7 linked regions of the Homo sapiens genome follow. The protein of the gene in region 3 purifies or fractionates together with the protein of the main gene of each other region. This does not show direct contact. Each region holds a gene or a part of one and is shown on either strand. Other genes may lie near its edges.

Region 1 (3,500 bases), on a different chromosome or scaffold from region 3:
TGCATGACTTTTTCAAAATCAGTCATTTTAAGTGAATACAGAAGGTATATAATACCTTTGGTTGCTGCTTTAATAAGTGGAATAAAAGAAACTCATAGGTTACGTTTGGTCTACACTCGCGTGAAGGACAAATACCTCCTGTGAATTCTAAGGTCTTTCACTAATTCCAACAAGGTTCCATCTTCCTGTTTCTCATCATAGTTTTTCCAATAGCCGTCGCTTTTGGCTCTGTCCTTCCCCTTATCCACCACTCACCCACCCACAGATACACTCATACCTTCCTTCTTTGGCCATCTCCAGAGCACTATCACTCCACCTATCACCACCTTGGAAAACTGTGTTTTGCTATGATCCCTACCTATCAGGCAAAGCTGATGTCTGTAGAGAAGAGAGGTTGAGGAGGTTCCTGAGAGGTTTCCAAAGGCAGCAAATTCAATGAATTTGAATGAATGCACAGGGGAATTAAAGTGTATTGGGTGAGGACTAGGGCTCTTACTGGAGTCAGTGTACTTAGTGGTTAACGGTTTTGCTGTGAATCAGACCTACGTTCAAAATCTTGGCTCTAATACTTAATAGCTGTGAGACTCTCACCAAGAAGTGATCTCTGGACCTCAGATTCCTCATCTGCAAATAAGGAACTCGACCAGCCTCCTAAGACTGCTGTGGGTAATGAAATTACACACATAGGTGGCACTAAATAAATGAGAGAAAAGTAGAGAGTGTCATATTTTATAAGAGACACAGAATCATAAATGTTTTTGCATTTGGAAAATGTACATCCCAACAAAAGCACTCTTTTTTTTAAAAAAGCTTTAAAAATTGGGATAGAAAAAGAAAACAATGTTTCCACAAAGATACTTAATATTAAAAGGTTATTTAGAGTTTGGGAAGAAAAAAAATGTGATGAGAATCTTGGAATTTGAGAAAGGCGATAAAGTACAGTTTAAAAGAGATACAAGTTCTTCATCAGGGTGAATAAACAGGAAATAAATCATTAAGGGGTCCCTAATTTACTAGCAACTGGGCCAAAGAGGTAATTACAATAATCATATTTATGAAAGTATGTAATGCCTAGAGCTATCTATTCAAACATTCTATTACCAGGACTGATGAAACAAAGACAGAAAGTCCATCCTTATTTGGGTAAACTCTCCCCAGCGACACCTCACATTCCTTCCCTTAGTAAAGTATCTTACCAACAGGAACCACTGCTCACAGGAGAGGCTATTATGTGTTAAAGTTTCAATGTACACCCGACCACCAATGAACATAACTACAACATCATCAGTAAGCTTGTATCACTTACTGAAGACAGAACATGTAGTGCTATGATAATTCTCGTTAGGAAAAACTTACAGCATTGTAAAATATCCCTCCTAAAGAAAACCTGCTGGAAGCTGGACCCGGTGTCTCATGCCTGTAATTCCAGCACTTTGGAGGGCTGAGGCAGGCAGATAACTTGAGATCAGCCTGGCCAACATGGCGAAACCTCATCTCTACTAAAAATGCAAAAAATAGCCAGGAATGGTGGCACATGCCTGTAATCTCAGCTACCCGGAAGGCTGAAGCATGAGACTGGCTTGAACCCGAGAGGTGGAGGTTGCAGTGAGCTGAGATCCCACCACTGCACTCCAACCTGGGCGACAGTGAGACCTGTTGAAAGAAACAAAGAAACAAAGAAACAAACTAAAGAAACAAAGAAACAAACCAAAGAAACAAAGAAACAAACCAAAGAAACAAAGAAACAAACTAAAGGAGCAAAGGAGAGAAATGAAGGAAAGAAAGGAAAAAAGAAAAGGAAAGAAAAAAGGAAGAAAGGAAAGAAAGGAAAAGAAAGGAAGAAAGGAAGAAAGAAAACCAAAAAAGAAAACCAAGAAAGAAAACCTGCAGGAGACAGGATAGGGACATAGGAAATGTGATAACAGTATGATTCAAACCCAAGGCTTCATATATAAAGCAAGTTATCATTTTGTCCCCACTCCCCCCGCCCCGTTGTATGGGGACACTAACAACATAAAAGAATAAAGAGAGACAATAAACCTCATCAACAGTCCTTCCAACCATACCACATGTCCAGGACTTCATATAGGCTACAAATTATGTGAAAAACACATTTAGCTTCACTCTGACCAAAAGACAACAGAGACATGTGCAAAGAAAACATTATTAAATTAGTTACTAATTTTTCTTGTGTGTATGTATTCTAACTTTTGAATACTTCAGTTTTATGAGCTCCCAATATAACAAAGACAAATTTCCTAGCAGGGTCAAAGATTTCTAACTTTATCTTTCCTTAACAGGCATCCACATGAAGAAGTACAGCGCCAAGGTTCAAGAATTAGTAACAAAAAAAGCTGGCACATAAACTGAATTATTTCATGATGGCTTTGTATTAACAATAAAAAATGGTAATATAACACTGTAACTATAGTTATAGGATGCTAAGGCAGTGTTATAGCACAAAATACAATCAAAGACCACCATGAAATTGAAAACTAAGCAGGAAATCAAACCAATTTCTTCAAGCTAAATTTCATCATTTCAGGAATTCAGAATCCTGACCCTTAATGGCCCTGACACTTGGTAGTAAGTCACTTACCTAACCTCTCTGTGCATCATTTAAAGAATGGGAATAACAACAATACATCAAATAAAGTATCAGAGAGAACAGTGCCTGGCACCTAGAAAGTACTCATCCCCTGTTAACTATTATTATAATCACGATCCCAATCTTCTCAGGAAGCACATTCCTATAGTGGGCAGAAATCAGAAACTCCAGTAATATACCACTGAATGTTGCATCTAATTAATAATTTGGAGGTTATGAGAATATTTAAGTATGGGGTTAGAAAATGCACAGTTCAAAAGGGGAAAAATGATGCAGCCACAAAGATCCTAAAAACTAAAAAGGGCAATCAGACTGTAGGAAGGAAAAAAAATGTGGTTGACCCCAATAATTCACTTCCTCGAAGTACAGAATAACACCTTTATGCAAAGTTAGCTCAGGAGACTTCAGAGAAACCACGAGTGCAAGTTTATTTACACTTTACCCAAGTTGATTTATAAACTTATAAATTTATAAACCTTATGCAAGTTTATTTGTAGTAAAACTGATTTTACTACATTTCAGCTATGTATCTGAAATGACATGTTAGACCACTAATATCTTCATTAAAAATATCCTTTTGATTGTACACTTTATCATATTTAGCTGCTAGCTGCCATAATACTACTAACCAAATGAAAGTCTGTCCTCAAACACTGAACTTAAAAAAGTATAATCTAACAACAAAATTACAATCTAGTATAATTACACCATATTACAACAAGGAATCAGAAATCAGAGGTTGTATTTTCAGAAAACAAAAAGGTTTGTATCTTATGTCTCCAACATGTGATTTTTCCATCTTTAGTAATTTTCATACTAGTACACAAAACCTACAAATCTTAGGATTCATTAGGGCATTCATATTGGAGTGATACGCATTCTACATTTAAAA
Region 2 (3,500 bases), on a different chromosome or scaffold from region 3:
TAAAAATCCAGAGCAGTGCTGTCCAGTAAAACTTCTATAATAAAGGAAATATTTGTGTCTGTACTTCCAATTCCAATACACTATCCAGTAGCAACAGGTGCCTAACTGAGCACTTGAAATGTGGCTGTGATTGAGAAACTGACTTTTTATTTTAATTTTAACTGATTTAAATTGCCACATGTGGCTATTTACTGTATTAAACAGAGAATTAAACATGGAAAGGAAGGGAAGAATAAAATTTTACATTTGTATCATGCCTGACAGCTTCCAAAGTACTCATTTAAACATTTATCTTAATTTTCCTAACAACCTTGTAAGTTATGAATATGTACTATTATCCCTATTTTATTGCTAGAAAATTGAACCTGAGGGAGGTCAAAATGAAAGGTCCTTTGGCTACTAAGGAACAGTTTATTCTTAAACTCAGGACATTTAAAAGAACATTAAAACAAAATAAAGAAAGAGATTTCTTATTAAATTTGTGCAAGTTCTAGTTTTATACTCACCTGCCTCATTTTAGCATGAATATAGAAGCAAGAATAACCCAGTTGAGAAATCTTCTTGGCTAGCAATTCAACTCGCTGAGAGGAGTTACAGAAAATGATCGACTGGTTTATCTGAAGCTGAGCACAGAAAAAAATAAGTATGAGAAAAATAAAAAAAACCTTCATTTGGTTTGCCAAATCTTGAAAACACGAACCAGCAAAAAAGAAACATTAACATGGTCTAAAACTTAGAATCTCATGATATGAGAGAGATGGTAAATTGTAAAAATTGTAAATAATAGATGGAAGATAATAATATCTAAGATTTACCGTATTAGAGTATATTTCTTAAGGGCCACATAACTGTCAACAAGAGTAATACAATTGATTATCTGATTCAAAGTAGTTATGTTTTATGTGTTTCCATTTAAAAATATTTTATTTTATTTTTTTTTTGTGAAATGGAGTTTCACTCTTGTTGTCCAGGCTGGAGTGCAATGGTGCAATCTCAGCTCACTGCAACAGCTGCCTCCTGGGTTCAAACAATTCTCCAGCCTCAGCCTCTTGAGTAGCTGGGATTACAGGCACCCACCACAATGCCTGGCTAACTTTTGTATTTTTAGTAGAGACAGGGTTTCAGCCTGTTGGTCAGGCTGGTCTTGAACTCTTGACCTCAGGTGATCTGCCCACTTCGGCTTCCCAAAGTGCTGGGATTACAGGTATGAGCTACTGTGCCCAGCCAAGAATACCTTCTTTAATATACTCACAACCAATGCCACCAGCATTGGGCAGCACTTCAGCACCATGTGTAGGGGCCAATTAAAACTGTGAAATCAGCAACAAAAACTTGAAAAACATGGCAGACTGTGAAAAGGACCCTTGTTCACAGTATGAGAGCTAAACAAGAGGACAGAGATTGCTTTCTTCGACCTCAGCTGGGAATGTGCATGTCAGGTGACTTAAACTCTTTGCCACACTGTACACGTCCACAAATGACTGCTGAACTACCTTGAGTATTAATTCCGGAGTTACAAATAAATTCTAGTGACTAAGCAAATTCACAAATACAGAATATGTGAATAATGAGGATTAACCCTAGTTAAGGTCAAAGTATTTCAGAAACTATTCAAAAGTGTATCTGTGACTTGGTTAATCATTTAGTATCAACTTTAGGTCAACAACTAAACCTGCCTTTTAGGAAACACTATGAATTATTTTTTAATCTTTTTTTTTTTCTTCCCAAGACGGAGTCTTGCTCTGTCGCCCAGAGCTGGAGTGCAATGGTGCAATCTCAGCTCACTGCAGCCTCCGCCTCCTGGGTTCAAGCAATTCTCCTGCCTCGGCCTCCCAAGTAGCTGGGATTATGGGCACACGCCACCATGCCCAATTTTTTTGTATTTTGTAGTAGAGATGGGGTTTCACCATGTTGGCCAGGCTGGTCTCAAACTCCTGACCTCGTGATCTGCCTGCCTCAGCCTCCAAAGTGCTGGGAGGCATGAGCCACCGTGCCAAGCCAGAAACACTACGAACTTTTATACAGTGAAGACGGTGGGAAAATTGATGAAATCATCTGTTTTACTGGGACTCGAGAGATAATATTCAACAGCAGAAGCCTACTTCTTACCCTGGAGAAAAGTGTGTTGAGGCAGTGTACTTTTTGGCGCTCAGTTACATATGCGTAGTACTGGGTTACTCCCTTCAGAGTTAGTTCCTCCATCAGGTTAATCTCATAGGGTTTCTGCAAATGGGAATTCTGGGGGGGGAGCGGGAAAAAGATGAGTCGTCGTCTTAAATGAAAGCAGAGTTCATCTCAAATTCAAAATATACCCTATACGTTTCTGTCCGATAAACTCTTGCTGTAAGGGACGCAACTCTCTTCAAAACAAAATATATGATCTGTCATTACAGAATTTCCCCCCTGCCACCCTGAGACAAAATCTTGCTCTGTCACCCAGGCTGGAGTGTAGTGGCACGATCTCTGCTCCCTGCAACCTCCACCTCCCGGGTTCAAGTGATTCTCCTGCCTCGGCCTCCCGAGTAGCTGGGAATGCAGGCATGCACTGCCATAACAGACTAATTTTTGTATTTTTAGTAGAGACGGGGTTTCACCATGTTGCCCAGGCTGGTCTCGAACTCCTGACCTTGTGATCTGCCCGCCTCGGCCCCCCAAAGTGCTGGGATTACAGGCATGAGCCACCATGCCCGACCCGATAGAAATAAATTAAGATATAAGATCTCAAAAATGCAGCTAAGTTACTACAGGTTGAGTATTCCTTACCCAAAATGCTTAGGAACAGAAGTGTTTCAGGTTTTAAATTTTTTCTAATTTTGGAATATGTGCATTACACTTAGTGACTGAGCATCCTTAATTTGAAAATTCAAAATCCAAAGAACATTTCCTTTTAGCATCATGTTCGTGGCTCAAAAGGTTTCAAATTCTGCAGTATTTTGGATTTCAGTTTAGGATACTCAAGCTCTGTTTTGTATATAGAATAATACCGGAATCAATTCAGCTAGCACCAATGGCTATGTCATCATGACACCAAAAACTAAGTGAAAGATGAGGAATTTAATTAAGTTACTATTACAACCTTCTTAAAAAGTCAGTTAATTTACGTAAAACAAATCTTTAATTGATCAACTGAAGAAAGAGCCAAAGGCTTGAAATAATTAGCATAAAGTATATTCACAGATATGAAGATGTAATTACAAATAAAAGCATACTCAAAGGTCACAGGATGGCACTGATTCCAAGTACAGATTTATACTCACCATGAACTTCTGTACACTAAGAGGGAAAGTAGCGGAATATAGTAAAATCTGCCTGTTTTTAGGTAGCGTGAGAATAATATCCTCCATTATCTGCACAAAATCCTGTGACAGCAACTTATCTGCCTGCAGTAGAAAGAAAAGACAATTTTAAAAACAATAAAATAATGTCTAAGGTCTTGGTTAATACATGGTCAAAGAATAAGGCATCATCCAACAAAAGCATCCATGAAATGTTCCTGGTGG
Region 3 (3,500 bases):
GCACTTTGGGAGGCCGAGGCAGGCAGATCATGAGGTCAGGAGATTGAGACCATCCTGGCTAACACAGTGAAACCCCGTCTCTACTAAATATACAAAAAATTAGCCGGGCGTGGTGGCGGCTGCCTGTAGTCCCAGCTACTCGGGAGGCTGAGGCAGGAGAATGGCGTGAATCCAGGAGGCGGAGCTTGCAGTGAGCCGAGATGGCACCACTGCACTCCAGCCTGGGACTCCAGCCTGAGACTCCGTCTCAAAAAAAAAAAAGAATGAAATCTTTTCATTTGTAGGAACATGGGTGGAACTGGAGGTCATTATATTAAGTGAAAAAAGCCAAGCACAGAAAGACAAGTATCACATGTTCCCACTCATATGTGGGAACTTAAAAAGTTGATCTTGGCCGGACAAGGTGGCTCACACCTGTAATCTCAGCACTTTGGGAGGCCGAGGTGGGCAGATCACCTGAGGGTGGGAGTTCGAGACCAGCCTGACCAACATGGGGAAACCCCATCTCCATTAAAAATACAAAATTAGCCGGGTGTGGTGGTGCATGCCTATAATCCCAGCTACTCGGGAGGCTGAAGCAGGAAAATCGCCTGAACCCAGGAGGTGGAGGTTGCAGTGAGCCGAGTTCGTGCCATCACACTCCAGCCTGGGAAACAAGAGCAAAAACTCCGTCTCAAAAAAACAAAAACAACAAAGTTGATCTCATAAAGGTAAAGAAAAGAATGGTATCAGAGGCTGGGAATGTTGCATGTGGGGGTGGATGAAGAGAGGTAGTTTAATGGGTACAAACTTACAATTAAATAAAAGGAGTAAGTTCTAATGTTTTCTAGCATAGTAGGGTGACTATAGTTAACAATAATATATATTTCAAAGAAGCTAGAAGAGAATAATTTGAATGTTCCCAACACATAGAAATGATAAATGTCCAAGATGATGGATGTCCTAAAGACTGATTTTATCATTACACATTCTGTGTATCAAAATGCCCCATAAACATGTACATATATTATGCAACAATAAAAAAATACCCATTACCGATGAAATGGACAGAAGATGAATATTCAACATTCATAAATGTTTGAATAAACAAGCATAAATTAAGACAGCTTGAAATTAAAACTGTATTTTAAATTAGAAATCCCTGCTTAACATCACAAACGTGAACAGAGAGAGAACATTCAGTTGCTATGGTCAGTATGCAAATTCTTATTACTACTCAGTCTGGAGTTCACCAGCTCTTTCTGTCATACAAGTCAGGCAAAACTGTGTTCTCATTTTCAAAAGTAATTTACCTTGTAATATACTTTGTTCCCATCATGATTCTTTCATGTTAATTCATCCTGATCAAGTAATCTAGAATGTATGCAACCTATGTCCACTTTCTTTCTTTCTTTGTTGAGGCAAGGTCTCCCTCTGTTGCCCAGGCTGGAGTGCAGTGGCACAAACATGGCTCACTGCAGCCTCAGCCTCCCAGGCTCAAACTATTCTCCCACTTCAGCCTTGCAGGTAGCTGGGACCACAGGCACGTGCCACCACATCTAGCTAATTTTTTAAAAAATGTTTTGTAGAGATGGGGTCTTGCCATGTTGCCCAGGCTGGTCTTGGAACTCCTGGGCTCAAGCGATCCTCCTGCTTCAGCCTCCCAAAGTGCTGAGATTACAAGTGTGAGCCACCACCACACCCGCACACCCGACCACCATCAATTCTTTTTTTTTTTTTTTTTTTTGTGCAGCGGAGTTTTGCTCATCGCCCAGGCTGGAGTGCAATGGTGTGATCTCGGCTCACCGCAACCTCACCTCCCGGGTTCAAGCAATTCCCCTGCCTCAGTCTCCCCAGTAGCTGGGATTACAGGTATGCGCCACCATGCCCAGCTAATTTTGCATTTTTAGTAGAGACAGGGTTTCTCTATGTTGGTCAGGCTGGTCTCGAACTCCCAACCTCAGGTGATCCTCCCGCCTCAGCCTCCCAAAGTGCTGGGATTACAGGTGTGAGCCACCGTGCCCAGCCGACCACCAGCAATTCTTGACCATAATTTCAACTGTCTCAAAGTGAAAGGAGAGCAATTATGCTAAAAATCCTTTAAAATTACCTCTAAAGGCTTCCATTTGTTTCTGAATACCCGTATGCATACAAAAGTCAAACATCAAATCCACATATTCTTCTGCATTATCCATTGTTATCATCTGCAAAAGAAAATTTGTCAGTATCTAGGAATATTTCAGGAGTGTCTAGTACAACTGGCCTTGCTAAGAGGATATGTCAGAACTTACAACTATATTAAAAGCAAACTTTTTACCTCATCTTCACCACTTGGCTTGAGATCCACAGCTGTAAAACCATATATTCTTGAGGAAGGGCAAAACTGGAAATTTAAACTGGGAGGACAAAAAAGATTAAATTAACTGACATGCAGCTACTACTAATGGTGTTTAATTTTTATAACATTACTATCATCTGCCATCAGTGGGTACAAGAGAAAAAATTAAATAAAATAACATGGCTATCAAAACCATAAATCCCACCCCTCTCCTCCTCCAACAAAATCAGTACACCAGCTTAGAAGTAAGTTGAGGACTTTTTAAATGCAATATTCTATGGACAAAATCTACTAGGCCAACTGTTATCAAATCTGTCTGGCTTTGCAAAGATTGCATGAAACCACCTTTCTATATTTTACTTCTAACTTATGGCACAAAATTAATGAACTAAAAATTTTGCAATGAATTATGACAGCAACATGTTTGTAAGACTTTTAGGAAGAAACTGTTGCTTTACTGAAGTCAATCACGCTGTGTACAAAAATATATATTAAAAAAAACCTTGAATATATAACCATTTATCAAACACAGTTTACCAACATTATCAGCAAACATTAAAAAAAAAAGGCCTTGCAGTTAACCTAAAATCACAGCTGAAGATATGATAATTACCTGTACATAAAGTAACAGAGTTTTATCAAAAGTTCTGCAGCATCTCAACTGCTACAGCCTTTGGTGATAAAGCTGACATACCAACCAATTTTTGAGCTTTGCAAAGTGAATCATATATTAGCAGATGAATTTGTCAAAATATTGTTGGCTCTGGACATTTTACACAGGCATATAAATTCACATTGGCTAAGTCAGGTAATCTTCTAAAGGTTTGATGATTAATAAACTAATATTCTAGTATTCTGAGTGTTGTCTTTATAATATTAAATCAAAGGTTCAAGTCGATCATCAATATTTCCTACAGCATATTACTGTTTTTGACAGACTATTTACTCATATATTGCAAATCAGTGACGACAAAGAAACAAAAGCTTTAAAACTTATTCATGCATTGGATTGAAGAATGTACATATAATGCTTACCCTAAATCCTCTATGCTAAGTGGAGGCCCAGAACCTGATGGATTCTTCAGCACTAGTTCCTGTAATTTTGTGTTCTTCTCATCTTCAGAAAGACCTTTGTTGCTTAAAATTTGGCGCCTCTTGATAGCAAGGTCTTTAATTTCTTTTA
Region 4 (3,500 bases), on a different chromosome or scaffold from region 3:
CTCTTCATGGAAAGTTCTATGTAAAGCTCCAGCTCCAAACACAAAATAAGACAAAGGTCTAGACCTTGACTCAGGTTTTATGGGAAAATAATTGAAAACCAGCTAAAAGTTCTTGTTCTAAAAGGCTATATGACTTCTCTTCCTGGTAAGAAATTATTGGAAGTCCAGATTCATATATGGGATTGCCTCTACATTTATTATTTTGCACTTAAAAGCATCCTACAAATACAATCAGTAATTAATCAGCCGACATAGTCCATTTGAGAAGGGAGAAGATTGTTCTAAGAGAAGCTCATTATGAAAAACTAGGAAAAATGAAGACTCTTTTCGAGCCCTCTGCCTCCTGCTTTACCAAACACAGGTTCTAGATTGCCAGTTCCACACTCGGATGGTCTGATCATCGGAGGCACTCAGAATCCAGGGATATTCCTGAAAGATATTCCAGACAAAGGCTTTAAACATTAAACAAATCTGTTCTATCAGGTTCTTGTAATCATTTTTCTCTAAAGAACTGCATTGCTTAACGGCTCAGCTACATTAGCAAAGGGGCTGCTGCTTTTGCTATCAGGTTAGCTGTCTCCTTTTCTCTACCACTCTAACAGCTTTTCTCAACTTCGGCACTTTCACCTATAAGACTTAAGAATGGAAGCCAGTTAGAGGCACAATACATTCTCAGAGGCAGATAGTGAAACATACATTTACATTTACTTCTATATGTGTGTGTGTGTGTGTGTGTATTTATATACAGTTAATCATGTAAATTAAGATCCTGTGAAAGACTCTTCTACCTTTAACTCTAGGATGGGAATATTATTTTATTGTCTGACTTCTTTCTGTCCAGTTTCAAAAAATTCCCAGGTCTCAGCAAGCAAAGCAGAAAGTAACATGTAAAGACAATTTAGCCTTTTTGGAGTCTATAAGATTGTTGAGAAAAGGAAGTATTTCTTATTTACACTTCCTTCTTACTACACTTGCTAAGCTTTGTGTTAAACACTGAAAATAGATGGTATTTCTATTTTCAATAGAGATAGTATCTCTACCTTCAGTATTTAGCACAAAGCTTAGCAAGTATAAGGCACACACATATTTAGTGAGCTGGTAAAATGAAAGAAAATAAGGTCTTTCGTAACTTTCCAGGTAGATGGCAACTTGTTCTAGGCAAGGGTCTTCAGGAAGTCCTTTATGGCAATGACAAATAATTCCTACTTAATAAGTTATCTTATTGAGTGGTTATCATTCTCAAATGTTTAAGCTGTAATTTTCTCATTCTCTCCTATCCTAGAATTTTTTAATTAAAAAAAGAAATAATATATACTCAACCAGTAAATTGTTTATTTCATCATATTCTTTCTAACTTAATTAAAGAGACTTAATTTACTGGCAATCAAAGAATAGTGTAAGTTAATGCTAATACACAGAACTATAAGGAGATCCTGTCAGGGTGCAACTGGATTCAGAGGTTGGGAGTCTGTAATCTGCACCTCACTATCTAAATCTACTATGTTACCTGGCAGATCAAAGAAAGTAGTAAGCCTGGCTAAGGGAACAGCCTCCACCAGACCCAAAAATCCTAGGATAGAGGGGTATGATTGTTAATACTTCGAAACGTTTGTTAGCTGATCAAAATGGCATCTTAGTCTGACCTTCTTCCAGACACACCTACTACTTACTAATAATACCCTACATGGGATTAGCTGGCAAACTTTTGTTTTTTGGTTCAGCAAATCTGAAATCAAATCCCTACTTTTCCCTACAGAGAAACAATGACTTCCCATAGAATCCACTGAATCCAATAAAATTAAATTCAGTATAATCCCAAGTGCTTCCTTTTGCAGAAAGAAAAAAAGCAGAAAGGACAATACCACACAGATTGTAGAAGAGCCACTCCAAAAACAACTCTATTATTAAAACATGGGTTCTCAAGGATCAAATAAAGATTACTATGGGGAAACTAAGAATGCTCCAAAACTAGCGCCACCATGACTACTTACATGATGAAAAAACGTGGTGCGAATATAATCTAAGTGCCCAAGCAATGTGAAAAGACAGCGCCGAAGCTTGTAATTCCAAACCTGCAAAGACAAATCAAACTAAGAAACAGAAATAGTTATTGAGCCTCTAAAAGGCTCAGAGAAATTGATATCTTTACAGAGATAGAAATATGTATATAAATATAGATTTATATACATTATTTGTATTTTGGCATTTCTAAATAGGTAGGAACCTTGGTAGAAAGCCTTGTTTAAGATTTGAGGGGAAAAGAACAAGAATGAAAATATAGGTCAGATAAACAACATGGGGTTGGGGTAGGATTAGGGAAAAGCTAAAGATAAAATTATTGAAGTTTTTCAGGCTGGGCGTGGTCACTCATGCCTGTAATCCCAGCACTTTGGGAGGTCGAGGCGGGTGGATCACAAGGTCAGGAGATCGAGACCATCCTGGCTAACATAGTGAAACCCTGTCTCTACTAAAAATACAAAAAATTAGCCAGGCGTGGTGGCATGTGCCTGTAGTCCCAGCTACTCGGGAGGCTGAGGCAGGAGAATCGCTTGAACTCAGGATACAAGAGGTTGCAGTGAGCCGAAATCATGCCATTGTACTCCAGCCTGGGTAACAGAGCGAGACTCAGTCTCAAAAAAAAAAAAAAAAAAAAAAAGTTTTTCTTTCTTTGGGAAGAAGCCATCTGCATTTAATAGCAGGAGATATTTATCCAGGGCTTGATTTGCAACTCTTTTTTCTACTGCAAAATTGTGCTCTTGGCTTGAATATAGACCCCTTAAGTGCTTTACCCATCACTTTTAAAAAGTATGACAGGCTGGGCACGATGGCTCATACCTGTAATCCCAGCACTTTGGGAGGTCAAGGCAGGGGGATCACCTGAGGTCAGGAGTTTGGGACCGGCCTGGCCAACATGGGGAAACCCTGTCTCTACAAAAATACAAAAAAAAATTAGCCGGATGTGATCCCAGCTACTTGGGAGGCTGCGGCAGCAGGATCACTTGAACCTGGGAGGCGGCGTTTGCAGTGAGTTGAGATCGCTCCACTGCACTCCAGCCTGGGCGACAGAGAGAGGCTCGGTCTCAAAAAAAAAAAAAAAAGTAGGACAGATAGATACCATGACTCCAAGGGAAACAATAATATAGGGCATCAGCTTCTTAGGCTCCTAACTTGATGGCAAACAACGCCCATACATGTGTGGTCTGTACTCACCTGTCAAGCAAACAGACCTTAACTTATTACATGGAAAATACTACATTGCTCAGTAAGCCTGAGCTAAGCAGAGAAACAATATCATATTCAGATGTGAAGTTGAGTCAACTACCAAAGTACTAGGCATCAATGAACACAACTGAAGACATGAAAACCAGGATCATAAATATAAAATAGCTTATCTTCCTCATTCAGAAAATCCCCTAAAATGTACAAAAATAAGAGACCAGATGCATTTTTCTTCTTATTTAATTTTTTTAAATTTCTTTTTAATATTTGTTTATAATCAA
Region 5 (2,206 bases), on a different chromosome or scaffold from region 3:
TACACAGGTGATCCAGAACTGCCGTGAGTGTCCTTCCGACGAGATTTCCCTCTGGGTGAATTTTGTGCGGGTGGCCTCAAAGCTCCTCTCTACACCGTGAGACCTCCCAAAGACTTTATTCTTTAAAGTCTAGAAAAGCCTGCTTTCTCTTTAAAAAGAAAAAAAAATTAATAATTGATTAAAAATTGGAGTTAGTTGAGTTATTTGATATATTATTTCTAAAATATATTACCGCTGCAGGCACCCTGTGTAACCCACAGGCCACATATCTTAACATCTTCCCTTTCTAATATGTACACACATGTACAGAGACGATTTGCCACAGAAAAAGGGTGTGCATTTTGCTTGGCTTTGAACACGTTCACCTATGTTAGTTCAACTAAAAGGGATAGCGTCGTGGGAGTTCAGGAGAGATCCGAGTGGATGGTGAAGTGGATGGCTGAAGCCTGCAGAAGCCCTGGGGGGCGGGAGGCGGGGCTCGGTGGTTCTGGCAAACCTGGCTGACCTTCCCCGCCCCTCCTCGGCCCCTGGGGTTCTCAGGGCCTCGGCAGAGTCCCTGGCCGCCTCCGCAGACTTCTCATTCCTCAGATGGTCTTTGGTTTGCTCCCGATCTGGCTGGCTGCGTTTGGTCTCATTCTGTCAGGTGTTGGAAGGGCTACATTCATCCGTTGTTTTGCTGGTGCCTGTGGGAGCCTCACTTGCTGCGCTGTGAGGCGACTCCCTGAGGGTATTTCTGCTCCTGCTGCTTCACCTGTTGTACAATTTCCCTGATCTTGCGCTGTGCAGTCTGCAGCAAGGGAGAGAAGGGAGAGGAAGGGACAGGGGAAAAAAGGAACCCAGTTCTGAGGACAAACGGCAGGGGAGGCTCTGGGGCTTGGGGATGAAGGGTGGAATGCTCAGACAAGCATCATCTACCCACCCCCGCACGTTACTCCAGGCCCTTTTCTGCCTGGAAGTAAGTGGCAGAGGTCCCCCCTCCACTCCCACCCCAAGGTCCAGGGTAAGGGGATGGGACTCCGGCAGCTTCCAGTTCACTGCTGGACGGACAGGCCAGGAAGCAGAAGCAGGGCGCCAGCAACTGGGGGCCGTGCAGAGTCAGATGCTACACTTGGGCTCCCGTGCTGCTCCCGCCCCCGTTCTACAGCGGCTAGGAGGGCATGAGTGTGAGGGACAGGGGAGGGAGGGAGGAACTGAGCCCAGATGCTCTACCCTGAACAGCTGGAGCACACACATGAACCCCCACCTGTCCCCTCACCCAGCCTAGCACTGTCCCTGCAGGCAGCTCCCTGCAGACTGAACTCCTGTAGGAACAGGCTGTTCAGACACATTCCCAGGGCCCTGAGGAGCTGAGCTGGGAGACAGCAGACAGGGGCGTGGCCAGGGACTCTGACTGCAGAAGACTCAAGTGAGAATTTCAAAGGGCACTGGGCGGGGGGTGCGTGTGTGGGTGGCGGGGGATCCACAGTGTGGCAGCTGCCCTTTCCTGGACCATCAGGTCTCAGCACAGGCACAGGTGTTGGGAGAGCAGGCTGACAGCTTAGACAAACCTTCAGTGTCTGCTTACACCAAGTACACTGTTTGTCTTCACTGGTTTAGGACAAAGACCAGGAACGCTCTCCCCAAAACTCAATTTACAAAAGCATCAAAGAGAAAGAGGCCAGGTGCTGGCCTTTCCCAATGAAAGAGAAGCGGCTGTGTGGAGGTGCAGTATTTTGATAGGGTGGGTTGTGGTGAGACCGAAGAGGAGGAGGAGAGAGAAATGCCGTGAGCATGTAGTCTTTCACAGGGAGTGCTCAGGCTTTCAGGGAGGAATCCAGAGGGTGGGCTTGCCTGGCTCCCAGTGGGGAGGCTGGGACTGAGGCCTGAGGAGAGAGGGTGAGGGAAGCTGAGGCCATGCCCTTAAACACTGCAGGGGGCTTGGAACCACATGGCTTTGCTTAAGCGCTTAACTCTTCACTCTTCCCCAAGCTCCTAGCATACATACCTCGGGGATGACAGTGGAGAGAAGTGTGAAACAATGTCCCCTGCCCCGGGGGCCATCCCTAAAGAGCCAGGAAGAACCAGGGAGAGGTTCCATCTTGGCGTGGATTGATGCTCAGGGCCTGTGGCCACCTGACAGGCCACCAGCAGCTTAGCAGAGAATTGAAAAGAGACTTGCAGGAGAGACAGGGCCCTCACAGCACAGTACCTGGCTAGCAAAGAAGTG
Region 6 (3,500 bases), on a different chromosome or scaffold from region 3:
GTTTTCAACCTACTGCCAGCGGGCATGAAGACAGGGACTAGAGTTCACCCGAAGCTTTAAAACAGTCTTCTTGGCTGGGTGCGGTGGCTCACGCCTGTAATCTCAGCACCTGGGGAGGCCAAGGCGGGTAGAGCACAAGGTCAGGAGTTCAAGACCAGCCTGGCCAGCATGGTGAAATCCCATCTCTACTAAAACTACAAAAAATTAGCCAGGCATGGTGGTGTGCACCTGTAGTCTCAGCTGCTCAGGAGGCTGAGACAGAAGAATCACCTGAACCCAGGAAGCAGAGGTTGCAGTGAGCCAAGATCGCACCACTGCACTCCAGCCTGGGCAACAGAGCAAGACTCTGTCTCAAAACAAAACAAAACAAAACAAAAAAAAAACAGTCTTCTCCAGGCACATGAAATGCCTGTCTCCTCTTTTAAGGGAGATTTTATGAAGTTTCAGAATGAAAAAAGTGATTTAACTTAAATTTAGTCCTGTATCATTACAATATATTATTTTTATAAATAAACAGGCATCATTGGCAATGATGATTGGCAATCTAGTCATCACTGGTCTATGTTGAAAACACTACTAAAACATTTGTGATCTCAAAGCTCAGTTAAGAAAATACTTTGGACATTAAATACATATTGGAGCTTTTCACTCTCCACGACAAATAATACATCATAAACAAGGACAGAAACTACAGAAGCACAGGCCTATCGGGCCTGCCACAGCAAATCGTGCTTGCTACTGGGAGTTTAGGCTGACTGCCCTGCACGCATGCCTCTGTTATTTATTCACAGCTTTCCTCCTAGTGCCCTTGCCACTCAGGGGTCTTGCTGTCACATGGCTTCAGACCTTGGGACACATACTCTTTCCTACCCAACACTCATCTCTCCCTCCCTTCACCTAGCTAGCTCCTACTTTGTTTCCAAGTCTTAGCTTAGCCATCCCTTCCTCTGGGATGGGAGCACACACACCCTGGCCCTGACCACACATCTTCATCCTCACAGCACCCTGGACTTACCCCTCTAGCAGTACTTGGCAAATATATTTTAATGGCTGGTTCAGATATGCCTCCCCCACTGCCTGTGAGCTCCTGAGAGGGACTGTTTTGTTCACAACACCACCAGCAGGGTCTAGTACTGCACCTGGGTTCAGATCAAGCTCTTAATAAATGCTTGCTGACAGATGAATGAATCGTTAGATTTTCTCATATATGTGCCACTGAGCAATCACATGTTGATATACACACACACAAAAATGAGTGAGGTTGTAAAATCACCGTGTTTTTTATCTTCGGAAGAACTCTTTTGCCAGTTTCGGAGCCAGCGTAGGAGTTTGTTGGCACAGCTCTGGTCACCTTGCTGTCCAATTATGGTCTTGAGCGAGGTTGGCTTATATTTATCCACCCAGAGCAAATTTTCCACTTTGTTTTCACTGCTGTCATCAGCCAAATTCCTAGCCTTGCTGTCACCACTTGTCTCCTCAGCCACCTGCTCCTTGAAATCCAGGCTTTTCCAAAACACATCTGTTTCCTTTTTTATTGTCTTTGCCAAACTGTCCCTTTTGGAAGTCGGCCTGCTCTTTTTAGATTCTGATTCCTTTTTAGATGGACTAATTTTTCTTTTTCCTTGGACATTTTTTTGGGGTGTTCTCTCCAGTTTGGACTCTTTCTTCATCTTAAGAAGTGGAAAAATGAGGAAAAAAGAAACCTGATGAAACATACAGAATTTCTATCCTGCTAAACGTACTACAGAGAGCAATCAGAGATATCCAAGTGGGCTACTCAACCTGGGCTGGTCTTTTCACAACAGACTTTCCTGTTTGTGGAAATCACCACCTTCTAAACTATAAAAATTAACAAACACACCAGAAACCACCAAATGCAATTTCTAAAAGTGACAACACGTTGATTTTTAAAAGTAATAAGTACTCCAATTTTAGTTTGAAAAAAACAAGGTACAGTGTTGAGATTTTTGTTTCAAAGTTTCCTAATTAAAAGTTAATGCCTCGACAAAAACTTGTACACAAATGTTCATAACCACATTATAGCTAAAAGATGGAAACAATCCAAATGTCCATCAACTGAAAAAGAAACAAAATAGGATGTGTCCACACAATGAAATATTATTTACCCCTAACAAGGACTGAAGCACTGATACATGCTACAACCCAGGTCAACCTTGAAACCACTATGCTAAGTGGAAGAAGCCAGACACAAAAGGCCATATATTCTAATGTCTCCATACACACGTGAAACGTCCAGCATAGGAAAATCCATAGAGACAGAGCAGAGCAGTGAGTGCCACGGGGTGGATAGAATGAGTGGCTGCTGATAGGTACAGGGTTTCTTTTCAGGGTGAGGAAAATGTTCTGGAATTACACAGTGCTAATGGTTGTATACTCTTGTTAATATACTAAAAACCACTGATTTGTATACTTTATAAGGGTGGATTTTATAGTATGTAATATCTCAGTTTTTAAAAAAATTAGTGCCTCTTTAGCAGTGGATGCTAAAATTAGTGGATGAATGTTTAAGGACAAACAGGATATAAGCATAAGTACCTCCTTCTCCTGCCAAGACAGTTATCGATTACAAAGGAAAAAATAGTCACTTTACTAGTGAAGGAACCCAGCACTAGTTTCAGTGGGATGCTGAATCATCTTAACCAAATAATCAAGATTATCCTCACTAATAATAAGACGTTATTGACATCCTGTATCTATGATAGGATGCACTGAGGACACAAGATCACATCCATGGTGTTCTTAGAAAAAAGGCATAACCTCAACCTAATCATGAGAAAACATCACAGATCCAAACTGAGAGACATTCCACAAAACTGACCAGTACTCATTAAAAGTGTCAAGGTTGTAAGAAGACAAGGAAAGACTGAAGAAATGTCATCGACGGGAGAAGACTAAGAAGACACAACTAAATGCAGTGTGGGACCCTGGAACAGAAGAACTACAGGGAAAAATGTAAGGTTCGAAAAATATGTACAGGTTAGTTAACAATACGGCATCAATGTTAATTTCCTGGTTTTTATAACTATGCTATGGTTATGTAATCGAAATCATTCCCTAGATTTCTCTAACCGGAATAACCTGGATGGACCATCTTGCCATTTGGGTGACAGAGCTGGGGACATTAAAATCTTGGAATGCTGGCAATCCTGTGTCCTGTGTGTAAAAAAAGATGGTCTACAGTGGGAATGAATGAGGCTAACTAGTAGAAACAGAGAGACAGAAACTGAAGGGGTCCTCACAGCTTTGTAGTCTGTGGATCCAATAGTTCCTAGACCAGACCCTCCCTGCCCATAGTTTAGTTATGTGAGCCAACATTTTTCCTTTTGCAAAAGCTAATACAGGCTAGGTGTCTGCACAATTTAAAAAGTCCTAATACAGTTCTAATTGAAAACAAATTTATCATGCTAATACCTATTAAAATATCCTTTAAGGAACTCTTAAACAATAACCTTTGCATAAAGTCAACGTGAGAATATGGC
Region 7 (3,500 bases), on a different chromosome or scaffold from region 3:
AAACTGTTCCCAGATCAATAAACTGGGAACAAAAGTGAGAAGTGGTAGAAAGCTGTGAAGAAGGCCCAGAACAGCCCACCCTGATATGCCAGGCTGTTCTTTTGGAAGAAAGCAGTTTGTACACAAGAGAGGTGATGCTGAGAAAGTGAAAAACCTGAAGGTTTTAAGAGCCGAAAAAGTGCTAATGTGAAAACACGCCACATGGTTTTATGTAGGGGCCCCTTTACTTTAATGCTTTTTCCAACAGGAAAATTTGACTTAAGTTATTTGAGTGCAGAATTACACAAGAACTTCAAGAAAAGTTATAAAATGTAATTGCACAGAACAACTCAGTTCTAGAATAGGGATTTTCCATTTTTGGAGGGCTTTTATGTACATCATCATGATTAAGTCATGCTGGGCCTATGAAGAAGGTGGAGTGTGGGATCATTCTCTTTTTCTGCCTGATGAAATGGAAGTGCTTAGTGCTTGGGCAATTGATCCAAGTCACTGCTAGAAAATAGGTGAATTGGTTGGGCATGGTGGCTTACGCCTGTAATCCTAGCATTTTAGGAGGCCAAGGAGGGTGGATTGCCTGAGCTCAGGAGTTTGAGACCAGCCTGGGCAACACGGCGAAACCCCGTCTCTACTAAAATACAAAAAATTAGCCAGGCGTGGCAGTGGGCACCTGTAGTCCCAGCTACTCCAGAGGCTGAGGCAGGAGAATTGCTAGAACCTGGGAGGCAGAGGTTGCAGTGAGCCAAGATCGTGCCACTGCACTCCAGCCTGGGCAACAGAGTGAGACTGTCTCTAAAAAAAAAAAAAAAGAAAGAAAAAATAGCTGAATCGAGACTTAGCATCCAGCCTTCAGAACCCTCATTCAAAACTCTCTGGGAAGCTAGGCATGGTAGCTCACACCTGTAATCCCAGCACTTTGGGAGGCCAAGGCGGAAGGATCCCTTGAGCCAAGAGTTCAAGAACAGACTGGGCAATGTTGCAAGACCCCTGCCTCAACAACAAACAAACAAAACAAAACTCTCTGGGAGGTCCTTTGGTATTACAGCATTTTAGTTATTATAAAACTCAGTCTTCTTAAGGAAGACAACTCAACTAACTTTTAAATGTGTGAAAAAAAGGAGTTGTAGTCACTTGAATTTGCACTCTGAATACTAGAATAATTTTGAAAATTAAATATTTCCGATGAAAATTAGATTACCTTTTAAATTTTCTCTGAAAAATTATACATTCACATGAGATAAAATCCCTAGACTAGAAAAGAAATATGAGAGGGAAGTCTTCCTCTTTCCCTGCTCCCGAGTCCACCCACTGTCACTAGTTTCTTATGTGAGTTTCCAGAAAGAATTATTTATATATTATAATGTAGCACATTGTATGGTTAGGTTTAGATCATTGCCTTTATAATGTAGTATTTACACATAAATGTATATCCTCCTTTCGGGGCTTTTGTTTGTTTGTTTTTTGTTTTTTGTTTGTTTGTTTTGGAGACAGGTTCTCAATTTGTCACCCAGGCTACAGTGCAGTGGCACCATCACAGCTCACCGCAACCTCAACCGCCCTGGCTCAAGCGATACTCCCACCTCAGTATCCCAAGTATGTGGGACTACAGGCGTGCGCCACCATGCCTGCCTAATTTTTTTGTTGTACTTTTAGTAGACTCTACAAGGTCCCTCTGTGTTGCCCAGGCTGTTCTCAAACTCCTGAGCTCAAGTGATTTGCCCTCTTTGGCCTCCCCAAGTGCTGAGATTATATAGACGTAAGCCACCACACCCAGCCCCTTTCTTTTTTCTTTACATAAACAATAGTATATCATACACACTGTTCTGTATCTTAATATTTTTCACTTGATGTATCTTGGAGAGTTTTCAGTGACGGTATATAAAGAGCTCCTCACCCTTTCTCCAGCCGCTTCGTTTCCCATTGTATGATTGCATCTTTAATTCCCTGGCTACTGATGAAACTGTAGGTGACATGCTGTTTAGAACTCGCCTAACTAACTGCTCATTCTCCCTTTCTAAAGGAGGCATATTGACATGTTTGAAAAGGACTGCTTGATACTGTCAGCTGAGGCTGGTGATGACCTGTCCCTATTTACTAGAAGCACTGCTAATTTTATGCCTTGTTTTTTTCTTCTTTTATGGTTGCTTTGTTTTGAAAAGTGGCTTGTCCCAGCCAAAATATAAGTCAAGTAAATCAAATTGCAGCCCAAGGTAGTTGACACTGGCTTCGGATCCCAAATAAATGTGTAGTGAGAAGCACAGAGAGCTGGAGGCTGGCGGCACCTGCAGGCTCCCTGCTCCTTATTACCCTCTCCCTCTGGGCTGCAGAGCCTTCTGGAAAGCCGCTGCCTGGCCTGGGTCAGATTGCTTACACGCCACTGCCTCCCAGGCCGGCGTTCCCAACCTTAAGCCAATGCACATTTATAGAACAATTCCATGTGATCCTGGGGAAGACAGACTGCGGGTGGAGGGCAGTGCTGAAAAGGAGCCTCTGGAAGAGAGGGCCTTCTCCCGCTTCTCTCCTCCTCCTCTCCACGCTGGGGGGATCCTGGGTGAGTGAGTCTCAGACTGAGGGCTTCTTCCTTTGAGCAACCTGTGGCTTTAAACCGGTTTGACTACTGAGATTAGAGGGATAAAAGCATTGCTTGTTTGCTTTCCTTATAAAGTGAAATTAAAGGCATATCTGTGCCTCTCCACTCCTTGTTTTTTAAGCCAAATGAACTGTACTTTTTCTAATACGTCACTGGTTACTTTTGATAGACTATGGCCCCATTAATCTAGACCTCGATCTCTTCATTTGTGAAATAAGGAGTTGCGCTGGATGATTACTGGAATTTCTTCTGGCCTCTGTTGTGATTCTGCCCATCACAAATTTTAGTTTCAAATGTTTGTGATTCTGCAGAATGATGACTTCAGAGAGAACCCCTAAGGCCCTGAGGGTTTGTAGGACTTTGTGGGAGAAAGTCATTTGAAAGCTCGTATTGTGTTGACCTTGACATGTTTGCACAGGTATTTCTCTAGACTCTCACAAGTGCCTTTCCAGGCCTGTTTCTGATGTTGTGCCTGCCAACTTGAGCCGCCGTGTGATCTTGGCAAACGCTGTGTTTCTGAGTTTGACTTGGTGTCAGTTATAACTGAATCATCAGGTTAAAGCCAAAGTTAGGCAGAATTCTAAGCCTCATGAGAGAATCCTACAGTTCAGTTAAACACAGAAGTGTGTGTGTATGTACTGTTTCATACCCTGTTCCATAAAACAGAAACGCCCCGACCAAAAGCCTTTATCCCACTGACACCACTTATAATCTATTGTGTAATATCTGCGTATGTGTGTATACAGGGGGCAAAACTCCTCCCAGTTCTAGTGGCATGGTGAGTGTATTAGTCTGTTTTGCATTGCTGTAAAGGAACACCTGAGACTGAGTAGTTTATAAAGAAAAGAGATAGTTGGCTCATGGTTCTGAAGGCTGTACAGGCTTGGCACTAGCACCCACTTGGCGTCTGCTG

Evidence for each region.
Region 1: the proteins of HECTD1 (region 3) and FMR1 purify together in Homo sapiens (affinity purification with mass spectrometry, with the first as the bait; 2 studies listed by BioGRID). This does not show direct contact.
Region 2: the proteins of HECTD1 (region 3) and DDX6 purify together in Homo sapiens (affinity purification with mass spectrometry, with the first as the bait; 2 studies listed by BioGRID). This does not show direct contact.
Region 4: the proteins of HECTD1 (region 3) and COPA purify together in Homo sapiens (affinity purification with mass spectrometry, with the first as the bait; 3 studies listed by BioGRID). This does not show direct contact.
Region 5: the proteins of HECTD1 (region 3) and IGF2BP2 purify together in Homo sapiens (affinity purification with mass spectrometry, with the first as the bait; 2 studies listed by BioGRID). This does not show direct contact.
Region 6: the proteins of HECTD1 (region 3) and RFC1 purify together in Homo sapiens (affinity purification with mass spectrometry, with the first as the bait; 2 studies listed by BioGRID). This does not show direct contact.
Region 7: the proteins of HECTD1 (region 3) and TACC2 purify together in Homo sapiens (affinity purification with mass spectrometry, with the first as the bait; 2 studies listed by BioGRID). This does not show direct contact.

The regions. Positions count from the first base shown.
Region 1 is NC_000023.11:147,914,919-147,918,418, reverse strand, and holds part of FMR1 (fragile X messenger ribonucleoprotein 1), read right to left. Parts: intron 1-3,500.
Region 2 is NC_000011.10:118,756,665-118,760,164, forward strand, and holds part of DDX6 (probable ATP-dependent RNA helicase DDX6), read right to left. Parts: intron 3,381-3,500; coding exon 3,258-3,380; intron 2,239-3,257; coding exon 2,110-2,238; intron 624-2,109; coding exon 507-623; intron 1-506.
Region 3 is NC_000014.9:31,103,294-31,106,793, forward strand, and holds part of HECTD1 (E3 ubiquitin-protein ligase HECTD1), read right to left. Parts: coding exon 3,353-3,500; intron 2,376-3,352; coding exon 2,297-2,375; intron 2,184-2,296; coding exon 2,090-2,183; intron 1-2,089. UniProt on the Homo sapiens protein: E3 ubiquitin-protein ligase which accepts ubiquitin from an E2 ubiquitin-conjugating enzyme in the form of a thioester and then directly transfers the ubiquitin to targeted substrates.
Region 4 is NC_000001.11:160,333,251-160,336,750, forward strand, and holds part of COPA (coatomer subunit alpha), read right to left. Parts: intron 2,073-3,500; coding exon 1,992-2,072; intron 430-1,991; coding exon 353-429; intron 1-352. UniProt on the Homo sapiens protein: The coatomer is a cytosolic protein complex that binds to dilysine motifs and reversibly associates with Golgi non-clathrin-coated vesicles, which further mediate biosynthetic protein transport from the ER, via the Golgi up to the trans Golgi network.
Region 5 is NC_000003.12:185,644,837-185,647,042, forward strand, and holds part of IGF2BP2 (insulin-like growth factor 2 mRNA-binding protein 2), read right to left. Parts: coding exon 2,189-2,206; intron 788-2,188; coding exon 695-787; 3' UTR 1-694.
Region 6 is NC_000004.12:39,307,363-39,310,862, forward strand, and holds part of RFC1 (replication factor C subunit 1), read right to left. Parts: intron 1,671-3,500; coding exon 1,274-1,670; intron 1-1,273. UniProt on the Homo sapiens protein: Subunit of the replication factor C (RFC) complex which acts during elongation of primed DNA templates by DNA polymerases delta and epsilon, and is necessary for ATP-dependent loading of proliferating cell nuclear antigen (PCNA) onto primed DNA.
Region 7 is NC_000010.11:121,992,163-121,995,662, forward strand, and holds part of TACC2 (transforming acidic coiled-coil-containing protein 2), read left to right. Parts: intron 1-2,469; exon of another isoform or gene 2,470-2,548; intron 2,549-3,500. UniProt on the Homo sapiens protein: Plays a role in the microtubule-dependent coupling of the nucleus and the centrosome. Involved in the processes that regulate centrosome-mediated interkinetic nuclear migration (INM) of neural progenitors.